Homo sapiens: one gene and its partner. The protein of the gene in region 1 purifies or fractionates together with the protein of each later gene. This does not show direct contact. Each region holds a gene or a part of one and is shown on either strand. Other genes may lie near its edges.

The links. Proteins that work in one complex are often made in the same cells at the same time.
Region 2: the proteins of GPR150 (region 1) and ABHD17B purify together in Homo sapiens (affinity purification with mass spectrometry; one large-scale study listed by BioGRID and IntAct). This does not show direct contact.

The regions. Positions count from the first base shown.
Region 1 is NC_000005.10:95,617,748-95,623,449, reverse strand, and holds GPR150 (probable G-protein coupled receptor 150), read right to left. Parts: upstream 3,364-5,702; 5' UTR 3,175-3,363; coding exon 1,870-3,174; 3' UTR 1,308-1,869; downstream 1-1,307. UniProt on the Homo sapiens protein: Orphan receptor.
Region 2 is NC_000009.12:71,865,070-71,870,105, reverse strand, and holds the end of ABHD17B (alpha/beta hydrolase domain-containing protein 17B), read left to right. Parts: coding exon 1-23; intron 24-3,099; coding exon 3,100-3,319; 3' UTR 3,320-4,954; downstream 4,955-5,036. UniProt on the Homo sapiens protein: Hydrolyzes fatty acids from S-acylated cysteine residues in proteins. Has depalmitoylating activity towards DLG4/PSD95. Has depalmitoylating activity towards GAP43. Has depalmitoylating activity towards MAP6. Has depalmitoylating activity towards NRAS.

The DNA of each region.
Region 1 (5,702 bases):
CTTTGCAGTGCTATTCCCGTTGCCTAGAACACCTTTCCTGACCTGAAGGGTCACCCCCAAACCAGCCTTCAAGAGCTTCTTTTGGTGAGTCTTTCCTAATGTCCCCTCATAGTCCCCCAAGATTGTCAGATTCTCCTCTTCAGTTCTTCTGGCACCCTGACTGAATTCCCCTGTTATAACACAGGTGACACTGCAGTGTAATTGTCAGATTGTTTCCTACATTTGACTATAACGTCTTTGAGGGAAAAATGTGACTTATTCATCTCAGCATCTCCAATGCCTAGCTTATTAACTGGCACAAAATAAGCAGGTAATAAATGTTTATTAATGAATAAATAATGGTATAATCTAGACTTGGGTTCATGAAGACAACTGTATCCTCTCTTTGGCTGATTTATTCCTGGTATTTTGCAGACCATTGCATCCTCAACAGGGTAAGGAGGAACAAAGAGAGGAAGGAAAAGCTACAACTCTGGAACATCTGCTGTCAAAATTTTGGAGGAAGGTAAAGAAAGCTTAGTAAAGATTTTCTTTCGTATATCTTTTATTTGTTCTATCTCTAACTCACATGATGAATTGTTCAACAAATATATATTGAGAGCCTACTACATGTCAAGCATTGTTTAAGCATTTGGAATATATTAGTGAACAAAACAGCCCTCAGCATTGGCTCTACAAAGAGCTTTAAACAATCATTTCCCCTTTCTGCATCTTAGGTCTGCATTTGTGCATGAACAAGAAACACTATAATGGAAAGCTTTAGATCCTCATACAAAAATCACTGATAAACCCATGGATATATTGTTCATAAGTGCTGCCACTTCTGTCTAGAACCAAGAACAGTTGAGAGGAAGAGGTTACTGATCAAATCCGCTCTTGACCTTGTTCTCAGCTATCCACACCAACAGGCATTGAATTCATTTTTTTAACAAGGGAGTTTTATATACACATGCAGCATTCTGAGGTTTTGACTTCCTTCCTAGCTGCAAATCTCTTTGAGGCTCCATCTGGGACACTGAGCCCCACCCATATGCACCACCTTGAAGCTTCCTTTCTCTGGTTTGCTGGGGACTTTGTACGGAGAGGCTCCATCTGGGCATAGCATTACACCTTTAGAGGCTGCTGGGGGCACAGGGACGATTTCCAACAGAAACCAAGTATATTTGAAAGACACCAAGTCAAGCTTTTGTTTCCTTCCTACAACCTCAGCTTCTGTTGAAGTGGAAACTAGACTGGAAATAAAGGCCACGCTGATTTTCTTCTGAGAAAATACATTACTATGTTAAAAAAAAAAAAGTCCCAATTGCTCCGTGGGAAAGGTTTTTATTTTATAAATACTCTGTGGCTCTGAAATGACAGCATGATTACATTTCTGACAGCACTGGTATAATTCTCAGACTCCCCAGGGAGAGCAACGTGGGGATTTTCCTCCTGGAAAGAAAAGGCAAACTTGCAGGTGCTGAAGGTACATTTGATTTAAGCACGATTCAAAATAAGTAAATACAGATGATAACACAGCAAATACTGAAAGTTGGGTAATCAGCAAAAATAAATGGCATTATCCAGAGCACTATAAATGCGTGAAAGAAAACTGCAAAAATAACTGTTTTTGTTTTTACAACTTTCCAGTGGCTCACTGTCTCCAAATGGGGAGATATGAGAGGAACTGTAGGGAAGAAGAGAAACTGGAAGAGCATAGGGAAATGTAAACATGAGAAGGGAATAGGAGAGTGGAGGAAGGGGACAACTTCAGTGTCACTCTCTCACAGACTCTCCTGCCCCTTGTGATCTGGACAGACCCTGGCAGGCCTCGAGTTCCCTGGAGGTTGCGCCTTAGCGACAGATGACCCGTCTCTGACCACCAAGCACCTAGAAGGCACTTTCGCAGGAGCAAGGCAGGGGTCTGGGGCGCGGAGGGGGTGGGCGCAAGCCGCCCTCGTCCAGCGGTTCCCGCCGAGCATGGTGATAATGAGGGTGGGGCCAGCGTTGGCGGTAGAGCGCCTGGTGGCCCCGGGGCCCCTCCTCGTCCTCCGCGCCTCCCTGCGGCGCGCAGCACAGAGAGCCCAGCCGCTTCCGCAGCTGTCGCCGGAGCCGGCAGTCGCCCGCCTGGAAGAAGAGGTAGACGAAGGGATTGAGAGCGCTGTTGGCCATCGCCACCACGCGCAGCGCCGCCGACAGGCCCTCTCCCTCCCAGTCTCCCGCGGGCCCGGACGACCACGCGGCCGCCAGCCGGGCGGCAAAGTAGGGCAGCTCGCAGCCCACGAACAGCAGCGCCAGCAGCAGGCTCATCTTCAGGCTCTGCACCTTGGCGCGGGGCAGCGCGCTGGGCGCAGGGGCTCGACCTGGGCTCGCCGACCAGGGCGCTGCAGCCGCGGGGGCCTGCGGCCGGTGCCGCCACCAGACGGAGAGTAGGTGGCCGCAAGCGACGCCCAGGACCGTAACAGGCGCGACGAAGCCCGCGACGGCCTCGTAGAACGCGTAGACCTGCAGGTGCCAGCGCGGCAGGGGCGCGAAGATCCCGTGGCAGCGACGCTCCCCCGGCCAGGCGCGGGCGGCCGGGGGCGCGCCTGGCTGCAGGGACGTTGGCGGCGGCGGCGGCGGCAGCGGCGAGGGGGAGTCCCCGCGCACCACGAAGGCCGGGGGCAGCGCCAGCAGCAGTGCCAGCAGCCAGCCCAGGGCGGCGAGGGCACGCGCGGGCAGCGGCCGGCCGTGCGGAAGACGCACCGCGCGCCGGCGCTCGAGGGCGATGAGCACCACGAGGTGGGCCGAGGCGCCCCGCCCGGATGCCTGCAGCAGCTGCAGGAAGCGGCACGCCAGGTCCCCCGTGGCCGCGCGGGGCTCGCCCAGCAGTTCCCAGGCCAGCTGTGACAGCGCCGTGCCCCCGCACGCGTACAGGTCCGCCAGGGCCAGCTGCACCAGCAGGAAGTCCATCTTGCGACGCTTGGGGCCCGCCCAGGGCCCGCCGCCGCCGCACAGGCGGCACAGCACTGTGGTGTTGCCTGCCACCGCCACCACCAGGATGACCCCCAGGAACACCAGGCGGACGCGGCGGCTGGGCGGCCCAGAGGCAGGGGCTCCTTGCCCCAAGGTCAGGTTGAGACCCCAGCCCAGCAAGATGGGCACGGAAATGTTGGGCGCCGGCGGCAGAATTGAGGGGCTAAAGAGATCCTCCATCCTTGTCCCGGAGGAAGAGGAGGCACCGAAGAGGGCGGGCAGGACGCGGGAAACCAAAGTGGAGGCGAGGCGGCGCGGGGAGCGACGCTGGGTCTATACGAGTTCCCAAAGTTAGTTGAAAAGGCACACGCACAGAGAGGGAGATGGATTCGGGCGGCTTTGCGCTTAGTTGTTTTTGTCGATTGTCCTCGTGATTTGTCACTCAAATGTGGGTTGTACACTCGAGGAACACACATGATTCCTATTCTCCACCTTCCCCGCGTCTTCCCTCCCATTCCCGGCGGGTACTCTTCCAATCTCTGCAGCGGCCCCCGACGCTACCCTCGCGGAAGCCGCGGACCCCTGGGCGCTGAGAACCTCATCCATTCTCTATTTACGTGTAAAGCACAGCAGGACAGAATGTCGCTTTGCTTGGCCATTGTATACGGCCAGTGTTATGCCAGCACCCACACAAGAGAGGACCTCTTGACTGAGATTGTACCACACGCCCCCACCACCCCAATGTGATTGCCAGTAGGAAAAAAATAGAAAAGACATTAGTTTTTATTTTAAAGGTTTGAAATGCCATGGATCTGCACGAGCATGAGAAAAACAGGAACACAAGAAACCTAACAGCGTTTTGAGCAAAGAGGAGACCTATTAGCTGAATTTTGATCAAGATGTGTCTTCTCTGTCCAAGAATGAAAGTATTTTAATTAGAGGGTACTAAAGTCAATGATGTTGCTTTTAGGAGTGGCAGTGTTGCAGATCGTTCCAAATACTAGGAGCAGTGGGTCACAGCTGCTTTCTTGGTGATGTAAAATTCATTTCATTAGTCTGAAGAGGGCATTAATAGGTTTTATGCAAATGGTAGTGCATTTATTGCTTTTCTCCTAATATTTTCATCCAGTGAAGGATGCGTCATCACACTCCTCATTCTCTTGATTCTGTTTTCCAGCAGATGGGAAGTTGCTAGGAGGGGCTACGCCTCCAATAAGCCTAGAGAAAAGGTGACTAAGAAAGTGATAAGGCGGCCAATTTTTTTAAAAAAGAAATCCAAGTCACAGGAAATGGTTTAGATTAAATGTTGCTGCTTTCATTTTAGCCTTGTCTCCTCACAAACACATTTTAGTTTCCCTGTTGGAAGCATCCATTTGTCTTTTTATGCACCCTCCACGTTAATCATGGTGAAAGTAGAATTTCCTGTACTTCCTGGCCTGGGGGCCAGGGAGGTATGAGTGTTGTCTAGGGTTCACATTCCCAATCTGAGGAAACATTTGGAACTTTAAGATTCATGGCCTAGGAAGATTTGGTGGGTTCCATGATAGTCCTGCCAGCTGCTGTAGGAATCCCATTTCCCAAGCTGTTGTCCTTTGGCCAGAAACCTTGGTTATTTTCATCATCATCTCTGTGGTGCCTCGCTCTGGTCTGACAGGTTGTAGTTATCAGTGGGTATGTGTTGAGTTGATGAATTAGTGGATATACGATGCTTTTCAGATACCTTCGAGCATAAATGCCTGCCTTGACTATAAATCCATCACCTAAGAAAAAATTCCTTTTATACTATGCCAGTATTGTCCAGAGGAGCCCAAGGAAGCTCTGTGGAGACATAGGAATAAGTGTTCCTGGTGGGACATTTAAGAAAGCTAGAGTGATAGCCTTGGAAAATCTAAAATCCTGGTTTGATTTTCATACTCTCCCTTTAGAACTTTTTATCCAAGGCCTTTTTCTATGCACACACATCATCCCAGTTTATAATGCACTTCTTCCAGGGAGCCTTCTCTGAGCAATGTTCATCATTCAGTGATTTTCCTAGCCAGTATCATTTCAGTGTTTCTCAAGATAGTCTATCATTTGTCTCAAATTTGTTGAAATGCTCTTATATATTAGCATTTCAAAATGACTATAGTGAAATTTCACAGAACTTTAGTAAGATCTGATAAAACATTGATTTTCAACAAATTCTTTTTTTTTTTTTTTTTTCCCTTTTTGAGACAGGGTCTCACTCTGTTGCCCAGGCTGGAGTGAAGTGGCATGATCATAGCTCACTGCAGCCTCGACTTCCTGGGCTCAGGTGATTCTCTCACCTCAGCCTCCCAACTAGCTGGGACTGTAGGCAGACACCACCACACCCAGCTAAGTTTTGTATTTTTTGTAGAGGCTAAGTTTCGCCATGTTGCCCAGGCTAGTTTTAAACTCCTGGGCTCAAGAATCTGCCCACCTTGGCCTCCCAAAGTGTTGGGATTACAGGCATGAGCCACTGGGCCTGGCCTAAACTAATTCTTATTAAAATTATACAATGCACATAGTTTTGAAAGTCAAATGGAACTAGAAGGCTGATAACATAAAGAGTTCCCTGTCCTATACATCTCCACTTCTTTATCCCCTCTTTCTAGAGGGAACCAATTTAGACTCTATTTGCTCTTTCTTCTGGCATTGACTTAATTCATAATAGTAAATAATATATATGTAATGCTATTCATTGATTTAACAAATTGATATATTATCTGTTAACTTCTTATTAAAGACTTATCTCTCGCACCTCTGTC
Region 2 (5,036 bases), on another chromosome or scaffold:
TACTGTTTTGATGCATTCCCAAAGTAAGTAGCAATATTCAAAATAGTTAAATTCCAAGAAACTTGGGAATTTTTTCATCATTTAAAGTATTCATGACACAGTTCACTCAACCATAAACTTCATTTTATATATATTAGCACATAGAAATTATGAAAAATTAATTTGTAAAGAGGGTATTAGCAGGTGACCAGTCAGAAGGCTGAAATGTTTGAGGAGTAGTAATCCAGATGAAAATTGCTGAGGGCCTTACACCTCAGGTGGTGGCACTAGTATTGGAGACAAGGGAATTAATTTGAAACATAAATTTGACAGAACTGAGTATCAGACTGGGTGTAGGATGCTAAAGAGAAAAACTTGAACATGACTACCATGTTTCTGCCCTGAGGTGCTAATGGATAGGGCCATCCAGTGAGACACTTGATGTTAGAGAAGAACAGGTAGAAGCTAAAATGAGTAAATATCTGATTAATGATACCTAACTTACAAAAGAAGTGAATTGAAAAAAAGTTGAATCTTAAATTAACTAGATTAGTAAGTATTGCTGCCACAAAACCTGCAAACATACTTAGATGTATTTGAAAGGAAAGTAGCTACTTTTCCTTCATGCTTCTCAAGACAGGAGGTAGTTCCCACCTACTCTTCATAGTTGGAAAAAATTAATGGCCTATTTTTCTCAAGGAGAAGACAAGAAATAAGTTGGCAAATTTTAGTTTTCTCTCCTTTCTCCAATTGGCAGCAATACAAAGGATTTTTTTTGTGAATGGCCGATGGGCCAAAGGCAAAGTCATCACATGGTTCAAGAATTATTTTAAAAACACAGAATTTTCATCATTAGCCAGTAATGGATCACTTTAGTAGGGAAAGTATGTGAACACATGATCTTATCACAAGGGCAAGCTGTGGGCATGTTTGGGTTTTTATTTTGTTTTGGGTTTGTTTTTGTTTCAGGTAATGTGGGTATAGGCATTATACTGCCTCTGTCTAGCTGAATGGTAAAAATGATAGGGATGTATCTGAGTATCCCCATATCAGTGTTGTTGTCAACTTATGTCTCCATCTAGCTCCCTCTTTCATTTCTGGTGCACCAACAGAGAGCAACACTAAAAATAAACTGTTTGGCCAGGCACAGTGGTTCACGCCTGTAGTCCCAGCACTTTTGGAGGCCGTGGCGGGTGGATCACTTGAGGCCAAGAGTTCGAGACCAGCCTGGCCAACATGGTGAAACCCCGTCTCCACCAAAATTACAAAAATTAGCCAGGCATGGTGATGCGTGCCTGTAATCCCAGCTACTCGAGAGGCTGAGGCATGAGAATCCCTTGAACCTGGGAGACAGAGATGGCAGTGAGCCAAGATGGTGCCACTGCACTCCAGCCTGGGCGACAGAGCGAGACCCTGTCTCAAAAAATAAAAATAAACTGTTTGAAAAAGATAATATACTTCTTTTTATTTTTTATTCAAGTTTTAATTCCTCTACCGCTGAACATCTTTCTGACAACAGATAGTAAACCCAAGTATTTATTCTTACCAAATGCAGCCTTAGATTATTTCATTGATGGTTTTTTCATTGTCAACATTCCATTTTCATTTTATGTTTATTATAATACCTTTCTCTAAAGATTCTTAAAAAGAATTGTCTGTGTAGTTTCTGTGTCCTCCAAGTTGCCTTTTAAAAAAGTGTTTGTTTTGATTCCTCTGTTATTTGAAGTGTTCTCCTCTCATGTCTGATAATTCTTGGTTGCCTGCTTATATGTAAGTAAAGGAGCTGATCAACTCTTTACTCTTACATATAAGCAGACAATCAAGATTTAGCAGATCAACTAAAGGGCTGATCTGATAATAATCTCCAAAGAAGGCTCTTTCTTTCTTTCTTTCTTTCTTTTTTTTTCTGAGACAGAGTCTCGCTGCGACACCCAGGCTGGAGTACAATGGTGTGATCTTGGCTCACTGCAACCTCTGCCTCCAGGGTTCAAGTGATTCTCCTGCCTCAGCCTCGCGAGTAGCTGGGATTACAGGCATGCGCCATCATGCCTGGCTAATTTTTTTTTTTTTTTTTGTATTTTTAGTAGAGACGGGGTTTCACCATGTTGATCAGGCTGGTCTCGAACTCCTGACCTCAGGTGATCCACCCACTACGGCCTCCCAAAGTGCCGAGATTACAGGCATGAGCCACCGCACCTGGCCCAAAGAAGACTTTCTAAAAGTCCCTCCTGGAGGACAGTGGCCTGACTACCAGCATTCTGGGAGCCACATAGGGAAAATGGGTTCATAGTAGCCAGTATGTAAATGTATATGTTTCCATTGTCTCTATGATACCTCTGTTCTAAACTCTGGCAGTCTTCTAGTTCACAGACATTCCAGTCTTGGGGGCAGGCAGTTTCTGGGTATATGAACAGGCAAAAGGAACTGGGAAGGGGAGGCTAACTTTCTTACACAGACTTTGCAAAAATCCTGTATATTTCAATCACCCCCTTCATCACCATGGTAATTCCTTAGCTTTCTGGGGTATTCTGTTGTATAAATTGGTTTCGTTCATCACTTTACCATCTATCTGCCTAAAATTGTGTTTTCTTCTTTTAATAAATTGTTTCACACATTAATCTTCTTTCCAGCTCCAACATTTTATTATATTTTAGTACATTCTCCTTGTTTTTGTATCTTTATCCTCAAACAAGAACAAAAACATAAAACATTTTGCTGTCATTTTAGTAGGAGACTAGGAGAAAGAATATAGTGAGTGCAGAAAGTGAAATTAGCGCATACTTGAAATGGTTCTTAAATTTTCTCTTCTTCTGGACACCTAAGTTTCTCTGTGCCAAAAGTCAACATTGTAGAAAGGTACAGTAGAGTGACAAGAGCATTGAGTGATTCCAGCAAAACCATCAAAACAAGTGCATGAAAATAACTTCCTCAGATAATCTTAAGGTAGGGAGTATGTAAAAGGCAATTTTTGAATCTTACTGGAAATTCAGGAGACATTCTTACCTTCTGAACTGATTCATACAATTCTCATATTTGAATTATCTGTCTGATATAGCACAAGAATATGTTCCTTTACATAGTTAATTTATTGCATTTTTCCCCCTTCCTTTTTCCCTGCAGCATTGACAAAATCTCTAAGATAACCTCTCCAGTATTAATAATTCATGGGACTGAAGATGAAGTCATTGACTTTTCACATGGCCTCGCATTGTTTGAACGTTGCCAAAGACCTGTGGAGCCTCTCTGGGTTGAAGGAGCAGGTCACAATGATGTGGAACTTTATGGACAGTATCTTGAAAGGTTGAAACAGTTTGTGTCACAGGAACTGGTAAATTTGTAAAATATTCTGTAAATTTGCTACTGGGTTTTCCTTTCTTGCTGAACTGCACTCTTTGGTAAATAACATAAAACCTGAAGGTTTTGTTTGCAAATCATGTCAGTTGCCTTCATAAATGTACAGGTAATGATTTGTTAACAGACTTAATGAAGGTTTTAATTACCAGAACTAAAAACTGGAAATAACAGTACCGTGCAGTCAGGCTGTGTAATTTATATTTTTTCTGTGAATTTTTTTTTAACATCAAGATGAGTACTGTATGAGATTTTAATTCTATAAAATCAAATGCTGTAAAAGTATTGCCAAATGCTTTTGCATACTAGAAACAAATTTATAAATATTTTTAAAACATCTCAATATATTAAATCTTATCCTGGAATACAACTGTAATATTTTGAAAAAAGCTATGTATCTAAAGCAATTTAAGTACTCATAATGGAATGAACTGTAAAAGAGATTTAAAACCATGCAAGTTCACTAGAATTAACCTAAACCCTGTTGTACAGGGATAGAGGTTTAAAGTTATTTTATTGTAAAATACATTGAATTTTCTGTATACTCTGATTACATACATTTATCCTTTAAAAAAGATGTAAATCTTAATTTTTATGCCATCTATTAATTTACCAATGAGTTACCTTGTAAATGAGAAGTCATGATAGCACTGAATTTTAACTAGTTTTGACTTCTAAGTTTGGTACTGTGAGGCAAGTACTTAAAATTTTCATGCTGGTTACTTAAAAGGCATTTAGAGATTTCAAGAATGATTTTGTATACGATGTTTTAAATTTTGACTGATCTCATAGTCTTCATAGAATTGCAGTAGTCTTCATTGTATGAAATCCCGAAAGTCCATGAGTTGATCTTAAAGACCACTAACAGACTGGCTATCAGATCCCTTTTCACTTTGGCTATTTTTTTCATTTTTTGAGATGGAGTCTTGCTGTGTCACTGAGGCTGGAGTGCAGTGGCGCGATCTTGATTCACTGCAACCTCTGCCTCCCGGGATCAAGTGATTCTCCTGCCTCAGCCTCCTGAGTAGCTGGTATTACAGATGCTTGCCACCACGCCTGGCTAATTTTTGTATTTTTAGTAGAGACAGGGTTTTGCCATGTTGATCAGGCTGGTCTTGAACTCCTGACCTCATGATCTGCCCTTGGCCTCCCAAAGTGTCGGAATTACAGGCATGAGCCACTGCGCCTGGCCCACTTTAGCTATTTTTAAAAATAGGACCTATTGTTTTGGATTACTATCTGAGAATTTCATGGATTCACTCCTGGGTATAGGAGATAAGAATACGTTTAATTCATAACTTTTATATTAACCAATATAGTAAAAAAATAAAGCTCACACATACAAAAACTAAGTTGCCTTTCCTTGAATGAACCCTGTCTGAATAAAACAATGAAAAATAAAAATAAAATTAATGGTATGTAGTCTAATTTGTAAATGAATGAATATGGAAATAATACACACTGTGGATATATTTTAAGGCCTTATGTAGTTTTAATTGTTCTGCTCGTTCCGTGGTTATGTTTAAGACTATAGTATATGACTCTCTTCAAAGTATATCAAGTATTGTGAATGCTTTGGTTCAGATGTGTCAAATTAACAGTAAAACAACAAATATACCACTGACCTGTGCTTATTTGCCTTTTTCCATGCTCCCCACCCCCACACTAGAAAGAGTGAAAAAAAATTACCCTTCGTTTTTATAGGA